Linked DNA regions of Homo sapiens: region 2 is linked to region 1. The links come from fine-mapping of genetic effects on gene expression. Tissue or cell type: monocytes after Pam3CSK4. Region 1 holds a variant in brackets; the other region holds the start of a gene. All regions are shown on one strand. Distances are between the middles of the regions.

Region 1 (8,184 bases):
ACGGTGGAAGTCCTTTCATTTTTGTGCTTTACATAATCCTGAAAATAAGTCTGCTATCTGTTTGACACTTGCTTCCCTTCCTTACAAACTTTTTTCTTTAATCTTAGCACAGTATATCCTGAAAGAAACTTGCCACTTCAGAGGATTTGCTGCCACCGATGTCACTTCCTATTAGTAGTGAGTTGACTTTGCATTCTCTGAGGCTCAGATTCCCACCATGAATTCTCCCCATACGCACTTCAAACTAAATTATAGCTCTATTCTCCAGTTATTGAAGACTAGCAAGACTGTGATGGTTCACTGGAGTCTTTTCTGATTTGAGATTTATACACTCCAAGTCTATGTCACCTAAAATGGCAGCCATTGTTATTATGTGGGCCTTTGAGGTTTGGCCTCAAAGAGCTGATTTCACAGTGATCATGCTGGCAGGAAACTTGCTATGGTTTATGGTAGATATAATGCAGTGATTTTGCAATTAGCCAAATTTTGGTGGTGTAATAAGATAGCTTGACTTACTAGTTCTTGAAAAAAATCAAGACTCTAATATAATACATGAATATTGACAATCTGCTTTAGAAATGAGAATATGTATTGTACCCACCTGGAAATGTTGGCATTTTGAACCATACCAAATGATTAGCTTTTTTGTTGTTGTTCTCTCAGTGAAAGATTCGATTCCCTGCTGTAAATTCTAGAGACTACCACAGTGACGTGTTCTGTGGGCTTCCCTTAGAACAAAGGAAACCACTCATTTTCCAACATTAATGGCTATCTGAAGATTCAGACAAGTTGAACACAGCATAGTTCTTGATTGGATAGGAAGAAAGTTATCAACAGGGTTAGAATCAGACCATTGTTTTGAAAGCAGACCTAGTTCTTATCTTACCCACTGGCTTGGACTATGTTTGGGGAAACTGTTATTGATTCGATTTATTTCCATAATGGTTGCGTTCTGCTTCCTCTCAGGAACGCTAATGTATAAGACACATGGAGCTTCCTCCTGTGTGTCTGCCAATTAAGGGCTATCGAGTTTAATGAGTCTATTCAACAGCACCCAACTCTCTAGTCTTTATTCAGTCTCCTGGGAGTTGAGGCTCAGAGAGAGGAGTACAGAAACAAGCCTACAAATTTGTTGAATAACCTGTTGTGTGTGTGTGTGTGTATATATATATATATATACACACACATATATATATATACACATATATATTTATAATAATAATTATTATTTTTTTGAGACGGAGTCTCCAACTGTCACCCAGGCTAGTGTGCAGTGGTGCACACTCGGCTCGCTGCAACCTCTGCCTTCCAGGTTCAAGTGATTCTCCTACCTCAGCCTGCTGAGTAGGTGGGATTACAGGCGCCCACCATCAGGCCCAGCTAATTTTTTGTATTCTTAATAAAGACGGGGTTTCACTGTGTTGGCCAGGCTGGTCTTGAACTCCTGACCTCGTGATCTGCCCACCTTAGCCTCTCAAAGTGCTGGGATTACAGGTGTGAGCCACCACACCCAGCCCCTTTTGTGTGTGTGTGTATATATATATATATATGTGTGTATATATATATATATATATTTTTTTTTGAGACTTCGTCTCGCTCTTGTCCACCAGGCTGGAATGCAATGGTGCAATCACGTGATCTCAGCTCACTGCAACCTCCACCTCCTGGGTCTGAGTGATTCTCCTGCCTCAGCCTCCTGAGTAGCTGGGATTACAGGTGCCTGCCACCACGCCCGGGTAATTTTTGTATTTTTAGTAGACACAGGGTTTCACATTGTTGGCCAGGCTGGTCTTGAACCCCTGACCTCGTGATTCACTGGCCTCGGCCTCCCAAAGTGCTGGGATTACAGGCGTGAGCCACCGCGTCTGGCCCCCTTTTGTATATTTTTAAGGACATATTTGTCCTCTCTAGAACACATGATAGTCCACATGTAATCACGTGAAGTGTCATCATATCGCTGTCATTTAAAAGTACTGGACATTCAAATGACCATTATTCAAAATGACTAGGATGAGCTCAGGACTTTGGCATATACTGCAGAGGTTGTGCCCAGCCAAAGGGTGTCCAGCAAAGAGTGGGAGCAAAACCTTCCTGTTCTGCAACAGCTCAAAGGAGAGTGCCTTTTGTTATAATAATTCCCACAAAGACCCTGGTCAATGGTGGCCTTGGATAAAATGCTTTCCATATATCACCATCCATACTCGACCACCTGAATGAACAATGTCTCTGCATCAGGATGCTCTAAGGATGGGCAATATGGGGAAATAAGAAGATATGGGGCAGAGGTAAAGAGAAAAACAGACATCTCATTATCTGATGTCGAGATTGGCTTTGAATTCCAGATTTGGTGTGACCTAGAGGGCGAGTTTTTACCTCTTTGTGATTTTGTATTCTCATGTTGAAATGGGATAATCCTACCTCATAGAACTGTTGTGAAGAATCATTAAGATAATGAACATAAAGCACTTGGCAAAGTGCCCAGCAAATAGGAAGTGCTTAAACAATGTTAGCTATAATTATTATGTTTGTCACTCTCCTGTCCCAACCCTTGGCCCTAATCCTTAGTGTTTACTTACCTGCTACATTGTAGGAGCTGTTGATGAGTTCCATGGCACTGCAGGAGGAGAGGGTTTAGAGGAAGGAAAACTACAGAGTGGGTAATGAATAAGCCACATTGGGATGGGACTCAAAGCATTAAGGGCGATACAAAGATTTAATTTTACCAAAAAGATTCTTTCTAACCCAAACCAGATTGACTTAGGTTTTTATTTTATTTGTTTTGCCTATCACATCTTGTGTTTTCAAAGACAGATTTTTCTGAAGGTGGTTTAGAGCTTGCTTACAATAATTACTACTTGTGAATTCAAAAACTAGAGGGCAGGTTGTATTTACTTCTCTGTCAACAATTACCAAGATTGTTGTTCACATCAAAGGAGGAGCAAGACTTTTGACTTCTCTCCAGTGTGATCATCTGATTCCTGTATCCATTATGGGCACAGAACTTTAAATACTCAGGAAAGAGGCAGGACCTAGGCCTTCCTCTGTTCATACTTAAATAAAGCATATTATTTTTCCCTCTTTTACAAACTTTTAACTGGAAACCAGCTGACTTTACAAATAGACATTTAGCTGCAATGGTTTTGCATGAATACTCTCTATGCTGTATTTATAATCTATTTAAGCTCTCTAGTGATTGGAGAAAATTCTAGGCTCAGAAAATATGTTTACTTGCTTAAAACAAAATGCCACAATGCCATTTTTCAAAGCCTCTGAGAGCCATTTGCAGCAAATGTGTCTAATTTGGTCATTCTTTGAACTTGCTGAACTGATTTTTTTTTTTTTTTTTTTTTTTGAAACAGAGTTTCACTCTGTCACCCAGGGTGGAGTACAGTGGTGTGATAGCTCACTGCAACCTCTGCCTCCCAGGTTCAGGTGATTCTCCTGCCTCAGCCTCCCGAGCAGCTGGAATTACAGGCACCCACCACCATGCCCGGCCAATTTTTTTATATTTAGTAGAGACAGGGTTTCACCATCTTGGCCAGGCTGGTCTTGAACTCCTGACTTCATGTGATCTGCCCACCTTGGTCTCCCAAAGTGTTGAGATTACAGGTGTGAGCCACCGTGCCCAGCCTTGAAATATTATTCTTATAGGAATCTCTAGTTTTAAACCAACTTGTTGTTTTGGACTACAAGAATGGTAGAAGGACCAGTGGCCTGGGAGTAGGTCCTGGGCTATAGAGCCGGGTCTGCTTCTAACTGTGATCTTGGGCAAGTTATGCAATCTCTTCCAACCTCAGTTAGGAGGTTGAACACTTACATTTTTTTTTTTTTTTTTTTTTCTGAGACGGGGGTCTCTCTCAGTTGCCCAGGCTGGAGTGCAGTGGTGTGATCACAGCTCACGTGCAGTGGCACGATCTCGGCTCACTGCAACCTCTGCCTCCTGGGCTCAAGCAGTTCTCCTGTCTCAGCCTCCCAAGTAGATGGGACTACAGGCACCTGCCACCACGCCCGGCTAATTTTTGTATTTTTAGTAGAGACAGGGTTTCACCATATTGGTCAAGCTGGTCTTGAACTCCTGACTTCAGGTGAAAACCTGCCTCGGCCTCCCAAAGTGTTGGGATTACAGGCATGAGCCACCGTGCCCAGCTCAACACTTATCTTTAAAAGGGCTGCTTCAGAATTTGTGAAGCCTGGTGCAAAATGAGAGCGTGGGACCCACTGTTCAAAATGCAGGAAAGAAGTGCTATTACAGGTACTATAACACATTTTCCTTTCTTCCTTAGTCTCTTGGCTTGTCATAGCGTTTTTAAAAAATCTGCTATTTAATGCCATTCTAAGTGAAGAAAAAATAAAATTTTAAATTAGCATGAGTTTTAGCATTCATCTTTATACTGTGTGATGACAGCCTTAATGCTAATGTAAGAGCATTTAATTCCCACGGAATTACTGACATAAGATTTGTGTTTTGTAGCTCTCATGTATGTATCTCATTCTTAGAACAGTGGAAATGCTGCACAAAACGGACTCAACTGTTTTAATTCATTTTTTGATATGGGCACATTCTACCAACGCTCTCCACCTTCAGTGTATTGATAAATAAGGAAAGGCTGGAAGGAAAAGGAATTATGGGTTGCTCTATCTTTCCTTTCCTCTGATGTCATCATTTTCAGGGTGAATGGTTCACTCATGCAAGGAATTAACAAGAGTCA[C/G]GAAGGAAATGTTATGGTTTCTGGGTCATTCGCCTTTCTTAGAAAGCTTTCTGTCTGCATTTGAAGCATGTTCCGCTTCAAACAGAAAGTGTGGCCTCTTGGGGGCTGTCATTCCCCTCTTTGCTCATACTTAGTCATGGAAGTAATATGCTTGTTTTGACTGGCTTTAAATGTCACGGAATTCCCACACATTGTGGGTCACTAGAATTCTGTGTTCATGGGACACGTTGAGTGCTATATTTCATAAGCTAAAGGGGTGGCAAGGTGTGGACACATGTTGCAGGTATCTCCTCTGCACATCCACGGGCCTCATTGTCCTGTTGGTCTTCACTTATAAAGCACACGTTCAAAAATGAAATCATTAAGAATATCAAGACGGACAGAAACCACAAGTCATAAAGCCTAGGGCAGAGTCTTTCTGAGCTTAGGGCTCTGTGTGACTGTGTAGGTCTCCGAAGCCCATGAAGCCCTGGTCTTTGAGTCTTTAGATCCCATACACTTATCTAATCTTATCACGACATTATTCATTCTTGGACATGCTTTATCTTTATAGAGTGACTTTACAGAATGACTCCAACTTAAGGAGTTGCTGATCTGATCATGGTATTTAAAAAATCAGCTTTATTGAAGTACAATTTACATACAATTCACTCACTGTAAGTGGATAGTTGGATTTTTATTAAGTTTCACTGCATTCCAGTTTTAGACACTTTCACAGAACCTCAGTAACTTACTTCATGCCCACTTTCAGTTACTTCCCACTCGATCCCAGCCCAGGCAACGCTGTAGACCATGACACATTCTGCAGCAACCCCTATGGACAAAATGCATGAGCTATAATATTTCTTGTTCTATTAGGCAACTGGCCATTCAGACACAGGACAAAATTCCAAGAATATCGGCTCCTTGTAGTTAAAATTCTCAAGGCATGGAAACTAGTTGGGAAAGGAGTTGGGCCACCACTGGCTCATAAAAGTGTCTGTGTGGATTTTAAAAGGTTGCCTCCTCCAGAAAAAGGCAGCCCCATAGCTTGGTAAGGAAACTATGGGCTACATTTCAGCCTTCACATTTCCCCACCCTCTCTACCCCCAGCCTGGGGCTCCTTTGCAGATACAACCCATAGAAATGTACCCAGTGATCTTGGGAGAAGTATTAGTAATAAGAGCTGAGGAGGATATCCTAGATCCATCCCACATATGAACCTGGGCAACTTATTAATCTCTCTGTCTCTGTTTCAACATCTTTTTTTTTTTTTTTTTTTTTTTTGAGACAGAGTTTTGATCTTGTTGCCCAGGCTGGAGTGCAATGGTGCAATCTTAGCTCACAGCAACCTCCGCCTCCTGGGTTCAAGCCATTCTCCTGCCTCAGCCTCCAGAGTAGATGGGACTACAGGCATGCGCCACCACACCCGGCTAATTTTGCATTTTTAGTAGAGATGGGGTTTCTCCGTGTTGGTCAGGCTGGTCTCGAACTCCAGACCTCAGGTGATCCACCCACCTCGGGCTCCCAAAGTGCTGGGATTAGAGGCGTGAGCCACTGCATCCGGCCCTCTGTTTCCACATCTATACAATGAGGAGATCTGTAGAATTTACCTTGCAGAGTTGTCACGGGGACTAAGTGTGGAATAGAGAAAACAGCATTTAGTCTCCAGTGCCTAGTGCTCACAAATGTTGGTAATTGTTATTGACTGAAAAGCGCCCCAAGTACTATTGCTTCCAACACTGTAGCTCAACAGCAGCAACATTCCATGGGTGTTTGGCTCCCTCTTTAACTCTTAAATTAGCAAATTTTTTCAACTGAGTCCATCGATAGACTACACCCCTATCTGTATTTCCAATTTTAGAACAAAAATCAACTGGTACATAGAATTTTATTTAAAAATTTCACTGTATGGGCAACTTTCCTGAAAGCAGCTCTTCTGTTAGTCAATCCTCTCTCCCTCCCTTCTTTCCTTTTTCACTTTTATTTTACTAGAAACTTTTGAAAGTGCAGGTAAGTTTCTGGCAGTAGCTAGTTTTTTCACTGTGGCCATGTCATCTGACTTATCTGGGTATCAGTTTCCTCATTTGGTAAGTGGATGGGAGAGATCATAGAGATTCTGAGGATTTTTTCTGGTTCCAAAATGCGGTGGTTACCTCGGTGGTTACCTCACTGGGGAGAAGGTATCAATGGTTACCTCATGGGGAGGAGGAAACACCTTCATACAAAGAAAAGTCACTATTTAGATAAAATTTATTCTCATTACACCTTTCTTTTCCCTTTTTGAGTATCTGTAATTGTTAGTGGACAGAGTCAAACTCTGTAAAATATTTGAAGAGATATATTCTGAGACAAATATGAGTGACCATGGCCCATGACACAGCCCTCAGGAGGTCCTGAGAACATGTGTCCAAAGTGGTTGGGGTGCAGCTTGATTTTTTACATTTTAGGGAGGCATGAGACATCAATCAAATATATTTGAGAAATACATTGGCTTGGTCCAGTAAGGCAGGACAATTTTAAGTGGAGTGGGGCTGGGGGGCTTCCCATATTTTGGTTTACAATTGGTTGAGTTTGTCTAAAGACCTGGGATCAATAGCAAGGAAATGTTCAGGTTAAGATAAAAAGTTGTGGAGATTGAGGTTCTTTTGAAGTCTCATTGTGGCTGCCCTTAGAGACAATAGATGACAAATGTTTCCTATTCAGATCTATAAAAGGTGCTAACTCTCAGTTAATTTCTTCAGGATTGGGAGGGCCTGGAAGAAAAAGATCTAGCTATGTTAATAGAGATTCTTTACAGGTGCAAATTTTCCCCCACAAAGGATGGCTTTGCAGGGACATTTCAATATATGGCAAAGAAACATATTTTGGGGTAAAATATTTTGATTTTCTTCTCTGTCATGTAATATTATGCCAGAGTCAGATTGGAAAGTAAGTCATGATATATAGGGTTAAATAAAACACATCTGATGAGATTTTATGGTTTGTAGGGCATGACTCCCCAGACCCCTTAGATAGGAATTTAGGCAAGATAAAAAAATCAGAGTTTAGTCCTCATAATAAATGGGTAGGTATTTGTAACTCTGACTAAATCCCAACTTTGATGATTTTGATTTATTATTATTATTATTATTGTTATTGAGACAGAGTCTTGCTCTTTTGCCCAAGCTGGAGTGCAGTGGCTTGATCTCGGCTCACTGCAACTTCCACTGCTCGGGTTCAAGTGATTTTCCCGCCTCAGCCTCCCGAGTAGCTGGGATCACAGGCGTCTGCCACCATGCCCTGCTAATTTTTGTATTTTCAGTAGAGACGGGGTTTCACCATGTTGGTTGGTCTTGAACTCCTGACCTCAAGTGATCTGCTGGCCTTGGCCTCCCAAAGTGCTGGGACTACAGGCATGAGCCACTGCCCCCAGCCTTGATGATTTTGTAGAAGGGAACATCAGAATTTGGGTCCCCTCCGCCAGTCTTTGAAAATTGATGGGAAACCACCTTCT
Region 2 (8,184 bases), 120 kb before region 1:
CAAGGTTTTTAACCTGCCAGCTGTTTTTAAAAATGTAAAACCAGCACAGGCAGTTGATACACCTAACCTTATACAAATTCTAAATCAAGCCACTGTGTAGCTATTTTCACTGTAGTAAGGCCTGACTCAAAGGCTTTTCGTCTTTCACTTCCTAATTCTGAGACCTATTCTAGGCTCTTGTTAGAAGTCTGGCCACAAAATAACAATTACAGAAGCACTTATTTCTACATACTTTTTTTTTAGGATAACATAAGGAAAAATATATACATGATAGTCATAAAACGCCCAAACCACCATATAGACAAGATGATGCAAGAAATTTCACAGTATGTGCTATATGGACAATTACTTTGCCAATTATTACCTAGCAGTCAGCAAACTAGGTCCCCTGGCCAAATCCAGTCCACAGATGGCTTGTTTTTGTTTGGCTCTTGAGACAACAATGTAAAAATTTTTACGTTTTTAAAAGATTATAAAAAACTAACAAACAAACAAGAACATTCAACCGAGACTGTAAATGGCCTGCAAAACCTAAAATATTTAATTATCTAGCACTCTACACAAAAAGTTGGCCGACCCCTGACCTAAGCCATACAAACAAACACATATAAGCTATCCATTATACATAAAGCTTAAGCTATTAATATGTCAAAGCTGAGGTATAGTTCTTTCAGTGATAGGTTCCTAATGATACAAACTGTCTTGTCCAGCTCTGCCTATTTTCCTCTTCTGATGCCCTGGTGCTTAAGCTAACATCTCGACCTAACTTTCTTTCTTTCTTCGTCCCAATTTCTGTCCTTGGATGCTCTTGGACTACTTATTCTACTACTACTTCCAACTCTGCCTGTGAATCTCTTTTGGAATGCCTTTCCTTTTGTTATCTAAATCATTTCTAAGTTTCCTCTGACTCCCTCCAAATGCCTTCCAGGATTGTTCTAGCTCTCACTGGCTTCACTTCCCTTTAAATTCCAGTTGGTGTCACACAACTTAATAATACCATATTATAATTTTTGCTAATGATACTATTAGTCTAGTACCCCCAACTAATTTGTAAACTACTTGAAGGAAGGAAGACATCACACTATGTTTGTATCCCCACTTTAATAACATTGCATCACCCTGCAAGCACATGACATCTCCCAGGTGTAGTTCTCAATCTTGGAGGAAAAAATAGCCCAAGGACTGGTAATGGGTGATAAGTGATTGGAAACATTGAAAGATGACACCCACAAAGGAACTTGATGGAAGACCACAGGTTACACAGAAAACTTGAAAGTATATATTAAAGACAAGCAAAACCACAACAGTGGGAAGACAGAAAGGTAAGAATAAAGATATAAAAAGAGACCACTGAATAATTATCTGAAATAAGACCAAAATATTAAGAAAATTATAAAAGCTCACAATACATGTAAAAGTACAAAATTTGCCTTTCAACATTAATGGCCACTAATTTCGTTTTAACAAGTAGTTTTTGACATTCACACATATGGGAGCCATATTTCTTGTTTTGCAATGTGATAAACTGAAGCAGTAAAAGGCTCAATGGAATAAATATGCACCATATTCTAAACCTTCGGAATTACAATATTGTGAGTTTATTTGAAGTCCGCTAGGCAATGCTAAAAACAAAACAAAAAAAACAAAAGCAAACAAAAAAAAACCAGAAACACTAATCACTTAGTTATCTGGCTAATAAAATTGGAAATCATGTGCATATCCCTACACCATTCTCAAAGACACGATCTAGATTCATTTTCATTCAAAAATGCACCAACAATGTTTCAAAAAAAAAACGTTTTTGGTTACTTCATCAAATTGTATTTTAAAAATACTGGCAGATTATAAAATACACAAGCCTTGGATGTCATGAACATCTTAAAAAATGCAAATGTTTTAAAACAGCGCAAATATTACTAAAAATTGATAAAGTATAAATTAAATGCTCTTTGCCTAAAACTACAAAAGACAATGAGAATATGAATCATGCATTCCCTCTTTTTTTCGGGGGGTTAAGGATGTCTCAGCCCTTAGCTATGTCTGGCTGGTCAGGGAAGAGGGAGAAATTTTTAAATTAGTAATAAAATATGCTTACTATTATATTGTAGAAATGTGACTAGTAAAGAGTAATCATTACATGTGTGTTAAAATAAATCAGGTCTCAATTACTCACACAGATAGAGGAAGTGAAGACACAGACGTCACCAAAAGAAGATAATCCTAGAATGTTTTTTTTAATGCTTATTATTAATTTGGGATAAATTAATTACCCTTATAACTATGCTTGACAGTGTTAACCAGGATTTTATTTTTCCGGAGCATTCAATGATTTGGAGGATTCAGACAAAAGGGAAAAAGAGGGAGTTAATTCAGAAGCATACAGGTGGCTAACGGTAGCCAGCCTGGGATAAAAAATTTTCCAGTTAACCTACACATAGAAAACTAACAGATGATCTATGAAATGAAACAAGACAATATAGTAAAATTTAATGTAGTAGTGCTAAAAAATTTAAATATAAGATTTAATATTAAAATTTTAACAAGATGTTTCTCCTGTCATCATCCCTTCTTCCCACTAACTGGTGTGATTAGAAAGCAAGATTAGTAGGCTACAAAGCTAAAAGCAACATTTCAGGTTATATTTCATAAAAGATGTGGTAAAAATCCTTCATCACTGTTTTCTGTTGGGCCACCATCTGTCTCAGTGAGTACTTCATCTCATTACTTAAGAAAAATTAATTCAACCAAGAAAATATCCAAAAGACAGGGGATTCAACTCACTTGAACATTTGTGGGTGACACAAGATGACAAGAGTTAGTAAATACGCAAAAACTAAATATTTATCCAAACATAAGATCAGAACCACAAAACTCAATTCGTTTCTGCCTAACATATGGCTCAAACTCCTGAGTGGCGTATGTTTAGTACTGGAGCTGGTAACAGCATGGTGATAAAATATTATAGTAAGAGTTCAACTGTTATTTCATTCCTACAATACAGAAGCATACACACTTTGGTTTCAAGAACTAAAAAACACAGACCACAGTAAGAAGCAAAATAATTACGTTGTTCGGTTTTAAAAACCCATAGTGAACACATAATGATTATACCGCAAAAAGAAAAAAAAAATCTCATCAGCCTGCGACTCTTATTTAATAGATGGTCAGACACAAAGGTGTCCAAAGGAACTTACGTAAAATCTCACAAAAGAAAATCTCGAATTCACAATCTCTAGCACCCCCAGCAAATCATCGCATTCCACCCTCTAAAATATCCCAAGGCTTGTAACGCTAACAGTTGAATAAAAGAACAATTAACGACCACATCCATTAAAACAGTCCCTCTTCTGCTCGCAATCTGACAGCGAAATTATCTGTTCATTTTCCTTTACCTAACACATGACGTCGTTTCCAAAGCCGTGTCAAAAGTTCGAAGATCCAGGTTGTTAAAACCGGGCGAGGACTGCAGCCTCGAGTCCACCTCCCGACTGAACAGGTGGTTAACTCGCCCGGGGAGAGGAACTGCCAGGTACTGGAAGCAGCCACGCAGGATCAAACAGAGGGCGGGTTTTCGAGGTTTTAACCCCAAGATGAGCGGGGAAAACTCTCTTCAGAAAAGCGTTCAAGTTCGGCGGCTGCCGGGCGGCCAAAGCCGAAGGCGCCGCGGGTGCTGGGCGATCCTCTCAGGAGGATTCCGCCCCAGCCCCCGCCCCCGCCCCCGCCCCCGAGCCCTCCGGAGCTACGCGGCTCGCCGCGGGGAGGAGGCGGGGGACAGAGAGAAGGGCCGCCCGCGCACCAGCGCCACCTCCCTCGGGCTAGATGCCGCCTCCTCTTGGGCTGGATGGCGCCCCCGGCCGCGCCCCCGCAAGCGTGTCCTGGCTAGGCTCGGCCCCGGCAGGTGCCCGACTAGTAGACCGGTCCTGTCCCCGGCCCCACTGCCCCTCTGCACCTCTGCCCACAGCGCGCCCACAGAAGGGGGTGGTCCGCGCCCCTCGACGGGGCCGAGCCCTGGAGAGTGCCCCGGCCCTCAGTCCCAGCCTAACGGTTTCCGCGGCGCCTCCTCCGGGGCGGGACGGGGTTGGGACGGCTCGGTGTCCCCCGCCTTTCGCGGAGGGAGTGCCCGCGCTCTCACCTCCGAGTCACGCCGTTCTGAGGCAGAAGGCGGCTCCTCTGGCGCCTCTTCTTAGGGTTCCTGATCGTTGTCTCTCTACCTCAGCTGCAGAGTCAGCTCTCAGGGCCGCCGCGGCCGCCGGCGCGCTGACTGTTGGGGTTGTTTCCTGGCAGTGACGCCGCCGCCTCAGCCCCGCTCTTCGCTCCCTCTCCGCGTAGCTCCCGCTTTCTGTTTCACCCGAGGGACCACGAACGCCGCCGCCGCCATGCTTACTACGGAGCCGGGAGGAGGAGCCCGAAGTCGGCGCGCCGAGTGCGGCTGCGCGGGCCCCGCCGACGGAGCCCGCGGCCGGGACCCCGAACCCCCGCCTCGAGCCCGCCGCGCCGGGGCTCTCTCACCGGAACGCGAGTCCCCGCGGGGCCACCGGCGCGTGGCGGCTGAGCGGCCGCGTTTGGCTCCCGGAGCGCCCACACCCTCTCGGGCTTCCGGCTTTCTCCCGAGGCCCGGCTGCGCCTGGCTTGTGGTAGCATCCGCTGTGGCCAGGCTCGGAGCTACACTCAGGAAAAGTGGAGTTAATGGAGGTTCCTAGAGACACTCACACAATTCTCAATCCACATTTCAAAAGGCTCCCCTGAGACGCACCCTGTCGGCCCCTTTCCGAAAGCACGCGAACTTAAGGCTGGCAGGTGCTTTAAAAGACACTCCTCCCAAGGACTAGGAAGCCTCTGAAATGGGCTTGGAAGTTTCTAATCCCAAAGACTTCGAACCCAGGATCTGGATAGCAAGCAAAAATATTTAGATATTTACTCAGTTGAAAACGTGGGGGGTGGCTTCGTGGTCTCTTCGCCAGCCAAATCGCGTGGAAAACCACGACCTCAATTTTTACAACAGCACGAAGACTTACAAGTGAGCGTAGCAGCGACTTCCTGGAACCTCAAACAATGTGGGACGCTGCAATAATGCCTGAGGGCTTTTGACTTACAGTTGCCGCCGGAGACCTGGGGAGGGGGTAGTACTTGGGCCGGTGAGTCCAGCCTCAGGAACTGTCCTTTCAAAAATGGTGATGGATGTAACAAGTTGCATGTCTGGGCTTTATTTCAGTGTATTAATTGTGCGATCTTTTAAAATAGCTGTATTTTTAAAACTGTTTTACAGAAATCTCTTTAAAATGTGATTATTCTCTATATTCTTAAAGAATACAATGGCTAATTAAATCCTTTGTTGATAACTGACTCTCAAACCGATATCTTGGCCATACGTTTAAGTCCCAGAGGATTGCTGCGGTGTATAGAATCCCTACTTTGGTGCTCTCTTTTTTTCCCTCTTTGGAATGTTCTCATCACCTCTTCTAAAATCCTTCACTGCTTTTCATCTCCTCATCTGCCTCTATCCACTCTGATCCTTCCTCTTATTCTTTCTGCTTTACTGTTTATTTTTCATTCTTCTCTCCTTTCTCGGCTGGTTTTCTCTGCGGCTCCAGGTGAAGATTGATGGGATGTTTATGTCCACAGCCAGCTAATGAGAGGTTTCTTTTCTTCTGGTTGTAAATAGGGCAGTGGTATCTTGAGATATTTTCATTGCTCTTCACTATCAGAAGTTCTTTCCCTGTGAGAGATGTTTCCTTTTCTTAACTTTTGGATTTGGCCCTCTTCGAGACAGCTGGCAAGTTGATCTTGGAATAATTGAAGTATAACTGTATATTGTTTCAAAGTATGAGGATTTTATCAGAGTGTGGGCGAATGGGGTGGCTTCCCCATCTTACTGCCCAACTATGCTTGGTCTGAGACTAAGATAGTGGTTTCCAAACTTACCGCTAAGCTAATACTTTCCTACTCTGCTTCCTACTCAGGAGCTTTTTGAAAATACAGAATCCTGCAATCTACCCCCTCAAGATTCTGATTCCTTTGTCCAGGGAGAGGCCAAGACATGGCACTTTTAAAAACTATATTTAAAAAAATATGTTTGGGACATGCCTACATGTAAAGGCAGAGTAAAGAAGATCAGCTGTTTTTGAAGGAGATTAACACATAATTTAAGAATGTTATTGAAGACCTAGAGATTGTAGTCAATAATATGCAATGCAGTAAGGTGAAGTAAAGTGAAGACCAAGGAATTTATGGCCTTTGGAGAGAAGAAAACCCACACATAAATGACCCTAGCATGTGCACCAGTATGAGTTCTCTGGGAACAGAGAGAGGGTCAAGAAATTATGTTGGCTTTGAACAAGTTCTCTTCTCAATGCTTCACTTTTTTTTTATCAATAAAATGGGAGCCATTTTCAATCCTCATCTTTCTTGGCCTCTCAACAATACTCAACACTTTGACCACTATTCTTTCTTAAACATTTCTTCTTCCTTTGACACTGCATTTTCTTGGTTTTCCTCCTTAGTTTCCTAGGCACTGCTTCTCTGATTCCTTTGCATATTCCTGCTGGTCTCCCTAACTATTAAATATAACAGTACCTTAAAATTCAGTTTTAGATTCTTTTCTGTTTTCATTGTAATCTCTTGGCCTAAGCAGCATCACCCACGCCAATGGCTTTAGTTATCATCTATATGCCAGTGATCTCCACATATATGCCTCCAGCCCAGACCTTTCCTCTAAATTCCAAATCTGATCCACTAGTCAAAGTTTGACCCTACCTCTAAATTCCAAGCTTCACTGACATGGCCACTTAATATCTCAAAGTTGCAAAGTTTAGTCCAACTGAGTTCATGAACACTTGTTTTCCTTATCCCCCATCTCTCTAGTTATTCAAATCAAATATCTAGTAGTCAGTAACCGCTGATGTCTCCCTCACCTCCATTCTTCCATTCTCCATATTTGTTGCAGCACTAACTCCTGGCAATTTTATTTCTAAAATCTAATTGGTCTACTTCTTTCCAATCACCACCAATCTAATTCGATCTCACTGTATACAATCTGGGATCCTCCATTCAGTCTCCATTTTGCAGCCAAAATTATCCTCTAAGAAAGCAAATGAGACTATGTCACTACTCCAAAAATCTCCTTAAACAGTTTCTCATTGCTTTAGGATAAGTCTAGAATTCTTAAGGCAGCCTAAAAGACCATACGAGGTCTGGCCTTACCTGCCTTTTCCAGCCTCATCTCACACCATTTTCACCTTGTTTCCTGGGCAGACTTCCTGGTCTTCTTTTAGTTTCTCAAAAATGCTATGATCCCAACAACCAAAGGCTCTATGTACATGCCATTCTCTCCTTTAGTTATCCTATCTCTTACTCATCCTTCAGGTCTCAGCTTGAAAGCGACATCCTTGGGAAAAACATTTCTGACCTCCCAGATACATTCAAGATACCTTGTTATGTCAGCTCTCTTACCACCATATACCCTCCCCTCTTATGACTTACCACAGCTTGTAACTACATTTTGGTATGTGTAACTACTAGGTTAATGTCTGTTGCTCCCCACATTAGGATAAAGACCATGTCTATTTGGGCCTGCACAGTGCCTGGCACATAGAAGCTACCCAATAAATATTTCTTGAATGATTATTGTCCTATGAGTTTATTTCTGGGATTCTAGAAGGTTGTTAGATCGGGAAATTAGATCACTGATCATTTTCAAGAGAGCAATCTTCTGTATGACTAGTGGGAAGAAATGCAGAAATGTGCTGGAAGACAATTCTCTGTGGGACTCTAGTATTTCTGCATGTCTTGTGAGCAGAGGCACTAACAGCTTTTGTTTTAGACTATATTTTCAAGGATTTTTTTTTTTTTTTGGTCAAACTGCCTTGGAAAATATACATAGTGTCCCCTGCCCTGCTCCCCCTCCCCGCCAAGAGCAGGGGCACATTTGTTTACCATCCAATATAGTGAAGATAATGTCTTTGGAGGTAAAGGTCAAGCAGGTTTTCTTGCAGCCTATTATAAAAAGATTGGGGATTTCCTAAGCTTAGATAGAGTTTCTCAGCTGTGAGGCAAACCCACTGCAGGTGCATCACTCACCTGAACCACACCATGTAGCTCCAGGTAAGACCTGGGGGCAAGGGAACTGACTGAACATGACACTGGCGCTGCTTGCTGTGCCATGAGTAATACAGCCCTTTGACTGCA

Direction of the effects. Positions count from the first base shown, and alleles are read on the strand shown. Sizes are in standard deviations (SD) of each study's normalised expression.
As copies of G replace C in region 1, the expression in monocytes after Pam3CSK4 of the gene that starts at base 4,398 in region 2 goes down (moderate effect, 0.50 SD a copy in Quach 2016).

What was found. PIP is the estimated chance that this variant, and not a neighbour inherited with it, causes the effect.
Region 2: it holds the start of FNDC3A, and the variant in region 1 is fine-mapped to the expression of FNDC3A in monocytes after Pam3CSK4 (Quach 2016, PIP 0.95).

What each region holds. Positions count from the first base shown.
Region 1 is chr13:48,850,532-48,858,715 of GRCh38, reverse strand. No RefSeq gene overlaps it. Among named protein-coding and RNA genes, the nearest start is that of FNDC3A, 120 kb to the left of the region's middle. The variant C/G (reference allele first, on the strand shown) is at 4,710.
Region 2 is chr13:48,972,126-48,980,309 of GRCh38, reverse strand. FNDC3A (fibronectin type III domain containing 3A) reads right to left here and starts at 4,398. Exons shown (of 26, transcript NM_001079673.2): 1 at 4,133-4,398. RefSeq lists enhancers at 3,364-3,463, 3,624-4,243, 4,134-4,433, 4,244-4,863, 5,134-5,193 and silencers at 3,604-4,083, 4,414-4,683.